Homo sapiens: one gene and its partners. The protein of the gene in region 1 purifies or fractionates together with the protein of each later gene. This does not show direct contact. Each region holds a gene or a part of one and is shown in the gene's direction. Other genes may lie near its edges.

Region 1 (5,298 bases):
TAGTAAATATTCAGTAAATATTAGCTGCTATTGTTGTTGTTGTTGTTGTCATTGTTACCATTTTGTCATTATCATTATAAGTGTTGTTGCTAAAAAACAGTATTGAAAAGGCAACATGTTCACATCCATTTGCCTGCAGAAAGGTTTTGCTAGCAGAAAAGATGCCATCTCTGGTACTGTTATATCCAAATGATTCCCACTCAAAGAAACTTTCCACCCTATTGATTGAGTTGACAGAATAAAGTATATTATCCAGAACTACTGTATTTCACAGAACTGAAAGTGACCAGCTGGTATAATGAAAATCATTTAGAACTAACTGGGGCTTAGGCAGCCTTAAAGAAGGCATCCTGTTTTGGCAGCTGACAAGTCACATGTAGAAAGCTGCGGGGTCCCAGTTGGAATCAATGCATTTCTAGATTTCTCTTCTGCTTCACCTATGCATGTGAGAGACAGTCCTTTTCTTTCTTAATTCTTTTCAGTGCAGATATTGAGCATTTTCTTCTCTATCCAGGGAGGCCATTGAATATGTGCTTAACCTGCTGGTTGGCTCCTCAGAAGTTCCAAGGCTGAATTTTTGCCACCATCTGGGTGCCTTCAGCTTATGGGTTGGCTGCTAAGGGAAAGGAATAGCCCTCCCCTGCCTGCCTGCCTACCATGGCCCAGTCTGTCTGCTTTTGTTTTGTGTCACTGCTATGGCACAATTTTGCCAGGCTCGTGGTCTGCCTCCTTCATGCCGGTGGGCCTACTTCTGTCACACAAGTGGACTGCTGTTTCTCCCTTTCCTCCCAAGATCTTTCTTTTTAATTTTGGGGAATTAGAACTCTGACACAGGGATCTGAAAGACAAAAGTGAATTACAAGAGTGAGAGGAGTCTGCCATAAAATTCTTTCCCAAGAAACTCGGAACTGGGAGTTGGTCGTTCCTGGTTGCTACTGATCTTTAGTAGAGTTGTGTTTTGCACGGAGAATAATATTTATACCTTAACCACAGCCCACCTCCCTTACTTCCTGATGGGAGGTATGATCTCAGGAGAGTTGCCTGACCTCTCTGAACTTTGGCTTCCTCATATGAATATTGGAAATAAAGTCCCCTGAATGCATGGGATTGCTGTGAAGATAGCGGCTATAATGCCCTTGCCCAATTCCTGGTACTGACTGGATGTTGAGCATATTTCCCAGTTAATCCCGATCTGTGAACAACAGGGGGCAGTAATTTTAATATTTATTTAACGGAGAAACTGAAGGCCAATAGAATTAAATTAGAAATCAATAACAACAAGGTATTTGGGAAATCCAAGTAAAATGACATAGCAGATGACAAACCGTGGTACCCGTCTAGTGCTTCTTTTAATAAACATCAGTTCCAAACACTCTGAATTTGAGAAGGGCTCAATGACCCAACTGCACTGCCTGCCTCGAATTAGCAGAAACCTCTTTATTTAGTAGCCCCCAGGCTGTGGTCATTTCTTCTGTGCTGTCTGTAAGCACACAAGAGTCAAAAGGCTCTGTCCCTCAGATAGGAATTCTGGGTGGCAATTGGATAAAGACTTTCTTTTGTGCTTAAAGATCCACTGAAACCTTTCTCTGTTCATTCCCTCCATGACTGTGGTGCTTATAAACAGGGAACTGCTGGTGACCATGAGCTATTTGCAAACTAAGAAGCTTGAGGATGAGATATTGGCCAAATCTGTTTTCTTTGTTGATGCTTTTGAGTGACATTTGCCCCTTTGCTCTGTCTTAACCTGTAAACATTTAAAATGAAATGTTCTGGTTTTTATGCTGTGTGTGTGCGTGTGTGTGTGTGTGTGTGTGTGTGTGTGTGTGTGTGTATGAATCAAGCAGGGGTGAAGATCTCTTTTGGGGATTGAGTCAGTCGAGTTTGGAGACTTCGTTTTCTTTTTTCTTTGGCCTATTGTCTGAGCAGTTTATTATTTGGCATCTGAAAACCATAGGCTTGCTTGTTGTGTTATTTCCCTGGGGATAAGGCAGAGGAGAAAAAAGCAAGGCTGGAGAGAGGGGAGAGAGTGTGTGAGTTTGGATGGAGCTTTAAGAGGAGGGGAGGGAAAGGAAGACAGAATGGAGAAGCAGCTGGGAGAATATCAGAGCAATTGCCAATCCACCACGAAAGTGCAAAGCTGAAGGTTCCCTTTGGGTGAAGTTGCAACTCAGAAGGCAACTCTGTTCTCCTTTAGCTAAAAACTCCTCTCCCCATCTGTCCTACAAAACTCACAGCGAAGCCATTTTAAATCCGAAAACCCTCCTTATGACTAAGCACTGCACATGTTTTCCACTAGAGCACCATGGACCATTTCTAAAAGTACATTAATTAAAAGGAGCAGATTTTCAAGTACAATATGAGCCTGCCTTTCCCTGGTGGGTGTAGGGGGTAAACTTTAGCGCATGTTTGGCTATGAAGTCTATAAAGATCAAATTGGCTGAACCAAGCACTCAGATATGAGTGTTGACTTGGAAGATGAAACCTAACACTCCAGGGGGCACAGAATCCAGAGATGTCGCTGGTTGGAACTGGAGGCATGAAGAAAATCAGGGCTGGCCTCGTTTGACAAAGCATTGCCAGAGTCATGCTCACTCAGAACAGCAGAGTGAACCTACAGGAGGAAGCAATAGTCGGGGGTTCTCTGATAGCTCCCTTCTTCCTGGTGCTAGTGTTTGAGCTGCTGTATGTGTTTGAGCTGCTGTATGTAAGTGTTTGAGTGCTGTATCCTGGGGCACTGAAGGCAGCACAGGAGCCCTTTCTTTATCTCTTTGGACATGGAGCAAGAGCCACTTCCGGTTGGTATGTTTTCCAACCCAGCACCCAGCCTGCCTCGAGTGATAGGTGGCTGACTTGAGTTGCCTCGATTCCTCTCACACTGGGAGTGCTATTGTCTTCAAGTCACCCTCCTCTCCTCGACTCCTTAAAATCAAACCTTGTAAATATTTTCCAGCCCCATCCAGGGTTAAGGGTAGCCAGGGCAGAAATTCTTAGCATTTCATTTCAACTGGGCAAGATGCCAATTTTTCCAGCTCTTTTCTTGGCATCCATTCATCAGTTATGAGTCCTTAGAGATGCCTGCTCATGAAAGTTCCAAGACTTAACTAAGAAACAGCCTATTTTCTATGGTCACAAAATCTGGTAAGGTTTTAAGGTAACTGTTAATATAGAAGGCAATGTATGTTTTGGGTGTCTATGTGTCTGTGTATAGTCTATGGTTAATGTTGATGTGGATGTATGATAACTGTCACAGACTGAGCGCCTACTGAGTGTTTGCTACGAAAGATGCTTTATGTAAACTTGTCTTGTTAATTCTTACAGCAATCATGCAGCTAGATATTATTGGTTCTATTTAGTAATTGAGAAATCAGGACTCCTGGAAGTTAAGTAACTCGTTCAAGCTTACACAGAGAGTAAAGAGTAATGCTGGGATTCGAACCCAGGATAATTAGAGTCCAAATCCTGTCCACCATTCTAGGCTTCTTTATACTTTTCATTATAATGTCCCCTGGGGATGTGTTTGTTTCTCTTATATAGCTCCTTTATGAATCCCTCATTTGAGAAACACCTCATTATTTAGCCATTGAATTAAAATCTCGTTGGTTGATCTTTGGTAAAGTTGGAAACACACAAGAGAATATGTCAGACTTGAAACAGAACATAGGGGTGTCTTCACCTTCTGCTTTTAATGTGGCTTTTGGAATGAAAGTGTGAGATTGCTTGGAAAGTCAGAAGACACCCTGAGATGAGAAGTAAAAACTGCAGGCAGGTGGAAGAAGTCCTTTGCTGGACTACAGGGAACATAGGGAATTCTTCTGGTCTAAACTTGTGGCTGTGGGCAGAGAGATGGGAGTTCGGAGAGAGGGAAGCCAAGCTTGTTGCTCTTGATCGCCAGTTGTGTGCACATCAGGTTCTAACTAAAATGTATGTTTCCGTTTTCTGAGCCTCAGTTCTTTCATCTTGAACATGAAGGTCCTAAATCAGGTGATCTATATGTTGTCTTCCAGCCATGACCTTGATGAGTGCAAACTTTCAGAATGAATTCAGCCTCATCAGGGAAGGAGTGTAATTTGCACTGTTGGCCACTCTTGGCGGGGAACTAAAAGGTCAAGTTTTAGATCAGGACCTGACTTCTCTGTGTTGTGAATATGTGCTGGAATATGAGAAGTGGTAGCCCCCCAGAGAATGGCGGGAAGCTTCCTGGAAGAACGTCTGACCTTTGGATGCTTTCCACTAGTGAAGAGGGGGTGTCAGTGGGCAGTGTGTTGGTGTTGCTCGTTCACTTTCAGAAGCTCTCCAGGGCTTTGTTATGTATGCAAGCATCCTACAGAGTGCTAGAGACCAAGGCTTCTCAAGTTTAATGTGCATCTACCTGGGGGCGTTGCTGAAATGCAGATTCTGAATTTTTAACAAGCTCCCCTGGGATGCTGATGCTACTCCTTCTAAACTACCTTTATAATAGGCATAGAGGAAAGAAAATTTGACTAAATTCAGAAAGTCCAGAGTCTAGTTCCAATTGTCACTTATTTGAGTAAACCTCAAATAAATCCCTCAGCTGCACCATGACTCAGTTTCTCCATCTGCAGAGTAATAAAATAATATTTAATATTTAATGATTACTGCGTGCCAGGCACTGTGTTCACTAGGTGTTCACTGTTTTATGTGCTGTATTTTACTTGATCCTTGAATTAGGAGGAAGGGTTTGTTACCATCTGCATTCTGCAGTAACTAAGCACAGAGAGGTTGAATAACTTGACCGAGGTCACACAGCTAGTTAGTGGCCAACTTGGGATTTGAATTCATATCACCTGACTCTGGAACCGTCACAACTTACAGACATAAGAGATGTGAAATATCTTGGGACTTACTGTGTGAATGTGTGTGTAATTATATTATATGTACAATTACAAATATTTCAGGTACTTGAGATTATAAGAAGTAGATGTTTCCCAGATGAGGTTTTATTGTTTTTAAGTAAAAAATGTTCTGATTTATATAAATTAAGGTAAAAGGCATTGTGAAGTTTCAAAGAGCACAGGTGTTTGCTCTGTTGTCACCTGGGGTGGGGAGGAAGTGGTACATGAAAGGAGTATTCTGGGGAATGAGGGGTTCTGGTTAACTGAGGTTTTGGCTATTTTAAATTAAATCCCAGTTCATTATCCGTCTTGGTTTTGTAAATTTGTACAGTATGACAGATACTTTTTCTGCCTTAATAGGAAAAGCAGGGTTAGCCCAACTGAGTATATCTTGTGATTCAGGCTGTGGCAGCCATGCAGATTATTGTCCTGAAAATGAATCCCA
Region 2 (3,500 bases), on another chromosome or scaffold:
TGGGAAGATGCCCAGTGGGGAGTGGAAGGAGAGTTTCCCCACCTGACAGCCAGCGCAGCCCGAGAGGAAGGGACCCCCGTGAGTGGAGATTTGCTGGGAAAGGCTGAGGAAAGTCCCACAGAGGAACTGAAGAAGCACCCTCCTCACAGAGGACAGGGCGTGCATCCCGACCCCCAGGCCTGCGCCCTTCCTCGGGCCATCCCTCTGAATGTCAGGAAGCCAGTCAAACCAGACAGAGGCAACTTCCCACCCAAAGAGAGGGGAGTGGTTCCCACCCAGAAAGGAGGGGCTGAGCTGAAGGACCGCGAGGCTTCAGCATTTCTTCACATGGAGGTGATCATTCCCCTGCCAGCCTCCCCTGGTCATTCTGAGGACCTGGCAGCTCTGGAGGAAGCTTCTCCAAGCCCAACCTCCCATGGGTCAGGGGAGCCTTCGGAGCTCAGGGAGCCCTTTCTTAGACATGTCCATCTTTCGAAAGCCAGCCCAGAGCCCAAGGACCAAGTAGGGTTTGTGGTGTCCCCTGCCACAGGAGGTGAGCGCAGGCCTCCTCCCATCACCAGCAGAAAGCCCAGAGTAGTCCCTGAAGAAGCTGAGGGGCGCATACCTCTGGGGTTTGGGTTCCCTTCAGGGAAGCGAAGGGAGATGACCTCTTTCCAGGCTGGGGACCAAGAGGGCTCCCTAGAAGATATTAGCAAGACCTCAGTGGCCAACAAAATTCGGATATTTGAGACCCACGGAGCTGAAACTCGCCGAATGAGTGAGGGTGAAGCAAGGTCCCTTCCAAATGACGTATCTTCAGAGGCACCCGTGGGACAAGCAGAGCAGCAGCGGAGTACGCTCTCAGACCTGGGCTTCGCCCAACTCCAGCCCCCAGGGGACTTTGCCAGCCCCAAAGCCACACATTCCACAGTGATACCTCTGGCTACCAGACACTTCAGGGAGGACACTTCTGCATCCTACCAGGAAGCACACACGGAACTAGAGCCCGTGTCCCCCAATTCAGGCTGTGAAACCACGCTGGCAGAAGCTACTGGAACTGGGGTAACTGGCCGCGTGAGCCCCCGCCCCCACCGCTGCTCCCCGCCCATGGGGGCTGGCCGCATGCTCTGTAGTTTTTAGAAGCATGTTTCAGTGGCCCCTCGTCATTTCTGCAATCAGAGGCTGCTTATCCATCCCTGTGAGTTTTTTCCCTAAACGGGCCTGGGTGTAGCTCAGGCTGAATGATGGGCTTCTCTGCTTGGCCCATGTTAGCTTGGCCACAAAGACCCTCAGCTTTTGGTGTGACCTGGTGCCCAGAGGGTCACACAACCCCCATGGAGAAGGTGGCGCCACCACCAGCAAATGACACACCTGCTTTGCCTTGCCGCTCATACCCGCTGGGTTCCTGCCTACCTTGCTTGGCTTGTCCAGCGATCTTTCTTCATCCTTTCCCATCCCTGGTTCTCCCGCCTTGGGAAAGTTGACAGTCCAGAGGTTTCCATCCTTCACTTCTGGTTCCCTCTCAGTCCCAGTGCCAAGTTTCTTTCTGCCTCCTTAAGACTAACTGTCTTCTCTAATCCAGAACAAATCCGGAGATGCGGTCAGGGAAGAGAAGCGCTCCACCAACTTAGCAGCCAACACCCCTGGGAAGGGGGGGCGCCTGAGATTTGCCAGCCCCTCGGGCCCTCAGGTCTCTGCAGCCCCTCTGTGCCCTGATGACCCAGTCACCTTCACCCGGCCAGGATGCATCGCCGCCTTAGGTTCCCACCTGCTGTGGCAGCACCTCTCGTGCTGCTCAACTCTGGCTTGTCTGGAATGTCTCCCTCACACCTCTCAACCTTCCAGAAACTGGCTAAATGGAGGCTCGCTTAGCAAGTGAATGTCTAAGCCCACTGAATCCCTAGAACCAGAAGCCAAGTTCTTTACAAATCTTTCATGGGTATTAGGTTGGTCTTTAAAAAGAATGTTATGAACCAGCCAAAAATGTGTGTGTGGTGTTTAATCCCTGACAGGCCAGTTGAGAGGTATGTATGTCGGACAAGAGTTGCTGGTTCCCCGAGGCACTGCCTTGGCCCGCTGTTGTCAATTACACTGATGGGACCAGAGCCTCTACTCCCTGACTTGCCTGTGGTCCACTCATGGAGCCCAGGGTGGAGCTGGCGTAGCACTCAGCTCCCAAGAAGCTCGTGCCCAAAAGGCCTGACCCTGAATTGCTCTTCTCTCTAGTCGATGCTGACCCCTCCCCCGGAGACTCAGTGGAATTGACAAACATGTTGGCTTCCTCTTTTGTTCCTCAAAGTTCTTGGCTCCAACCTCTCTGCCTTCCCTTCCTGGGTCTCCCTGAATCCCTGGATCTCCCTCCTTAGTTTCTGTTTCTCAACGCCCACCTGCACGGATGGGCCTGGGGTCCGGGCTTCCATCCCTGCCTTTCGTGCAATGCTGCTTCCAATAAGCTCCCAGATCCAATACCCTTGGATGGAGCCTCCTGTCCAGGAGTCACTGGCAGGACGTTTGCTTTGTACTTGCTTTTGCCATCAGTGTGAGACCCTCAGAAAGGGGCATCTCCACTCTTGAGTCGTTTTTGTTTTTTTTATGCTTGTTATGATTTCAAGGAACCTTTCCTGGGGTGTTTTTCATTTCCTGGCCTGCTCTTCCATTCAGGATGTCGACACAGCCCCGAGATTTCTCCTGACATTCACCATCTTGATTTCTCTTTCTCTCTCTCTCCCCACCCCACATCCCCATTCTTTTGATTTTATCTGGCCATAGAGAGCAGGGCTGAGGGAGGGCTCCGAGGAGAAAGTCAAACCACCACGTCCCCGGGCCCCAGAGAGTGACACAGGCGATGAGGACCAGGACCAGGAGAGGGACACGGTGTTCCTGAAGGACAACCACCTGGCCATTGAGCGCAAGTGCTCCAGCATCACGGTCAGCTCTACGTCTAGCCTGGAGGCTGAGGTGGACTTCACGGTCATTGGTGACTACCATGGCAGCGCCTTCGAAGACTTCTCCCGCAGCCTGCCTGAGCTCGACCGGGACAAAAGCGACTCGGACACTGAGGGCCTGCTGTTCTCCCGGGATCTCAACAAGGGGGCCCCCAGCCAGGATGATGAGTCTGGGGGCATTGAGGACAGCCCGGATCGAGGGGCCTGCTCCACCCCGGATATGCCCCAGTTTGAGGTACAGTGGAGCTTCCTCAAGAGCCAGGCCCGCTGGGCACCGCATGCTCAGAGGGCCCTGGGCCACCCGTGAGAAGACCGAGCACCCAGCCTGCAGCCTGAAGCTCTGTCTCGTGTTGCATGACTGCCCCTCCGCAGAACAGCATGGTTCTGTGCTCGCATGTTTGCCATCTCGGTTTACCCCTAACACGCGCTCCTTGGTATTTTAACCCTGTGACCCCATCGCTTGCTGAAGTCGAGCGATGACAGGTAGTCTGGTCTTTCTTGACCCCATGCCCCCCCACCTGTGTTGCATGGCACCTGCAGAGAGCATGCGTCTGTGGACTCTTGGGGGCTCCTGCA
Region 3 (3,500 bases), on another chromosome or scaffold:
GCGTGAGCCACCATGCTGGGCTTCCTTCCTCCTTTCTTTGTTATCCCATCCCATTTTTTGTCCCCTTCCTTTTTATCCTGTCTCTGCTCTTTTCCTTCTTGCCCTTCTCCCCAGTCGAGCGGTTCTTGTGGCTACCACAGCTGTCGACCCCCTTAGGCCTAGAGGACTTTGGCCCAGAGGGGAGTTAGGCTGGGCCCCTGAGAGCCCACTGAGAACAGGGTTTGCTGGTGAGGCCCACAGCCCCTTCTCTAGGTCAGCACCCCCAGTGCCAGAATCTCCTGCCCCAGATGGTTCCTGAAGCACAGTCCTCCCTTCCACTCCCCTGCTCTCAAGCATCTATTCAGCTTTTTGTAACCAAGATGGTTCATATCTAGCTTTTTTGTTATTGTTCTCTTTTCTCTTTAAAGCTGGGGAAGCTCCAGGCTACCTACACAACCTGGCCCAGGCTGGTCACGGTGTCCCCCCTCCCTGCTCTGTGCCCTCTCCTTCCAGAAATCCACCATGGAGAGTAAGGATGAGGTCAGCGACACCGACAGTGGCATCATCCTGCAGTCTGGTGAGTGTTCAGGGAAATCCCCCTGCCCTAGTCCCTAGTCCCTGGTCCCTGGTCCCTGGCCCTGACTCCTGAGTCCTGAGCCCTCAGGCACTAGGGCTGGCTGGGCTGAGACTCCCAAGGGCTGAGAGGAAGGGGAGGGAGAGGCCTCTGCTGGGAGGAGGGGGAGGTTCTGGAAGGGCTGGAGCCTCAGGGACATGTGGAGTTTTCCTCCCTGGAGAAAACTGGCTTGGAGTTTTGGTTCTATCTGGAAGAGGGATCTGCAATGTTCAACTTTAGCCCCAGCTGAGAAGTTGAAAAATCTCAGGCAGGCACAGTGGCTCATGCCTGTAATCCCAGCACTTTGGGAGGCCAAGGTGGGCGGATCACAAGGTCAGGAGATCGAGACCATCCTGGCTACCACATAGTCCCAGCTATGTGGGAGGCTGAGGCAGAAGAATCGTTTGAACCTGGGAGGCGGAGGTTGCAGTGAGCCGAGATCGCGGCATTGCACTCCAGCCTGGGCGACAGGGCAAGACTCCGTCTCAAAAAAAATATATCATCTGGCCAATGTGAAGGTCTTGCCTCTCTGTTTGGCCAGACCTGTGGGCCTAGTCTGGCCTAGTCTTGACAGAGGACAAGAAAGAAGAGGCTTATGTGTGTGTGCAAGAGAGAGGGGTAGTGGGGAGAGGGAGAGAGAGAGACAGGAAGAAGAAGGAGAAGGAAAAGAGGAAGAAGAAGGGAGGAGGAGTGGGGGGAGGACTGCACCGGCAGAACTCCCTCCCCTGCACTCCCCCACCATAGGTCACCTGGTGGGACGACCCTCCCTTCTGAGTTGTAACATTTGTGCAGCCAAGAGACGTGGTGTTTTGTGGCTGTGACACAGGCCACAGCAGCCAGCCTGCAATTTGTGGGCAGGCATGAGATGTGTGTGTGTGTGTGCATGTGTGTGCATGTGCATTCCCCTAGGGGTGGTCAATAAGTAACGGAGGAGGCTTCCATCTTCAGCCTCCCTGAGCATGTGCCCCCCAACCCTTGCAGGCCCCGACAGCCCGGTCTCCCCAATGAAGGAGCTGACCCATGCAGTGCACAAGCAGCAGAGGGCCCTGGAAGCGAGGCTGGAGGCCTGCCTGGAGGAGCTGAGGAGACTCTGCCTTCGGGAAGCGGTGAGGCCCCAGCCAGCACACACAAGCATCGGGTTCATCTCAGGAGCTGTGGAGCCACGTGTGGGGATGCGGGAGCTGGGGAGAGGGAGCCCCATTCTTGAGGGAATTCTGGACATCAGGCTGGGGGCTGGGGCCCAGAGTCCCCATGATGCAGTGTTTGACCTTGTGCTGGATGGAGAAGAGTCAGACCCAGGCAGGGGCCCAGGCACAGAGAACAAAGTTCATCAGGGGCTGCAGAGGGACTGCACAGACATAAGTGCATATGAGTGCTGTAACCCGGGTCGGTGTAGCTCTGGAGGAAGTGATCAGAAAGAGGTCTGAAGGGAAAGGGGAGGAGTGCAGAGTGGGTCTGAAGACAGGAGAGACAGTGTGGAGGATGGGATGAGGTGGGGTGGAGGGTGGTCCCACCAGGGCTTCTATGGAAGGCAGGCACATGCAGTGCAGGGGCCAGTGAGCCAAGTCTGGGCAGGTGGAGAGGACCTGGCTGGTCTCTGCTTCCTCCCCAGGAGCTGACGGGCACCTTGCCAGCGGAGTATCCCCTCAAACCAGGGGAAAAGGCCCCCAAGGTTCGCCGCAGGATCGGAGCGGCTTACAAACTGGATGACTGGGCCTTGCACAGAGAGGTGAGGAACCTCAGGAAGCTGCCAGTACCCCTCGATCCCCAAAGCTGATCACTGAGACGCCACACCTCAGCTCAGTACCCTGGCAGGTTCCCTTCCACCCTTTCACACCCAGTGAGGGTGCTTGGCTGCCTGTTGGTGAGAGACACCATGAATATGTAGCCCAAATGGCTGTGGAGAAGGGGCGCCACTAAGGAACCGAGAGCTGGGAGCTCAAGGGAGGACACTGGGTTTGACCCCATTGGGCAGAAGATCAGTTAAGAGCACCAGCCACCAACCCAGCGGGCAATAGCCTGCTCAGACAGGTTACTCTGGCCCCTAGGGCTGTCCTCCTTTCTCAGGAGGAGGTGGGGGCAGTCAGGCCCTGGGTGCCCTTCCCCTGTGGCGTCAATGGCAGCAGTTTCCCATGGGCCAGCCTGCCCCACCCTTTGGGGTCAGGAGGGAAAGTGTCCCACTTGGGTTCCCACCCTGCCCGGTTCAGCAGGTGGGCTGGTGGGTGGGTGCCCATGCCAGCTTTTCAGGCTGACAAGTTTGCTTTTCGGCTCCTCCCACTCCTTCACCCTCTGCTCCACGTCCGTCCATTGGTGCTGCTGTCTGCCTCTCTTCTGTCCTCAGGGCTTAGGACTGGGACCTAGAGCACTGTGTCAGGGCTGCTGTCCACCCTCTGGGCCCCCAATCTCCCTGCCTCTCTCTAGCCTCACTCCTGCCCCCTCTCTCAGGACCCCCTAAGCAGCCTGGAGCGCCAGCTGGCCCTGCAGCTGCAGATCACAGAGGCAGCCCGTCGGCTGTGCCTGGAGGAGAACCTCAGCAGGCAGGCTCGGCGGCAGCGGAAGCACTCCATGCTGCAGGAGGAGAAGAAGCTGCAGGAGCTCCAGCGCTGCCTGGTCGAGCGGCGGCGCAATAGCGAGCCACCTCCGGCTGCTGCTCTCCCCCTGGGCCGAGGTGAGCCGGCTGCCCTGAGGGGGGCCATGCTCCTTAAATGAGCTTTTGAGGGATGGTGGGCGCACAGCCCCGTGCCACTGCCTTTGCATTTGGCTCCAGCTGGGTAAAGCTGATTCTTGGGTTCAGCTCCACCCCATCCTGATTCTCTCCAACTCCAGCAAGGCTTCCCCATCCTGTGAGGTCTTCTTCTCCGTCTCCTTAGAAAACACCCTACTCTCTCCTTCCGTATCCTCCTCAAAA

The links.
Region 2: the proteins of PRICKLE2 (region 1) and EPB41L1 purify together in Homo sapiens (co-immunoprecipitation; one large-scale study listed by IntAct). This does not show direct contact.
Region 3: the proteins of PRICKLE2 (region 1) and INAVA purify together in Homo sapiens (co-immunoprecipitation; one large-scale study listed by IntAct). This does not show direct contact.

What each region holds. Positions count from the first base shown.
Region 1 is NC_000003.12:64,217,954-64,223,251, reverse strand, and holds part of PRICKLE2 (prickle-like protein 2), read left to right. Parts: intron 1-5,298.
Region 2 is NC_000020.11:36,206,740-36,210,239, forward strand, and holds part of EPB41L1 (band 4.1-like protein 1), read left to right. Parts: coding exon of another isoform or gene 1-1,041; intron 1,042-1,561; coding exon of another isoform or gene 1,562-1,669; intron 1,670-2,748; coding exon 2,749-3,159; intron 3,160-3,500. UniProt on the Homo sapiens protein: May function to confer stability and plasticity to neuronal membrane via multiple interactions, including the spectrin-actin-based cytoskeleton, integral membrane channels and membrane-associated guanylate kinases.
Region 3 is NC_000001.11:200,897,900-200,901,399, forward strand, and holds part of INAVA (innate immunity activator protein), read left to right. Parts: intron 1-407; coding exon of another isoform or gene 408-501; coding exon 502-556; intron 557-1,573; coding exon 1,574-1,698; intron 1,699-2,204; coding exon 2,205-2,321; intron 2,322-3,037; coding exon 3,038-3,260; intron 3,261-3,500. UniProt on the Homo sapiens protein: Expressed in peripheral macrophages and intestinal myeloid-derived cells, is required for optimal PRR (pattern recognition receptor)-induced signaling, cytokine secretion, and bacterial clearance.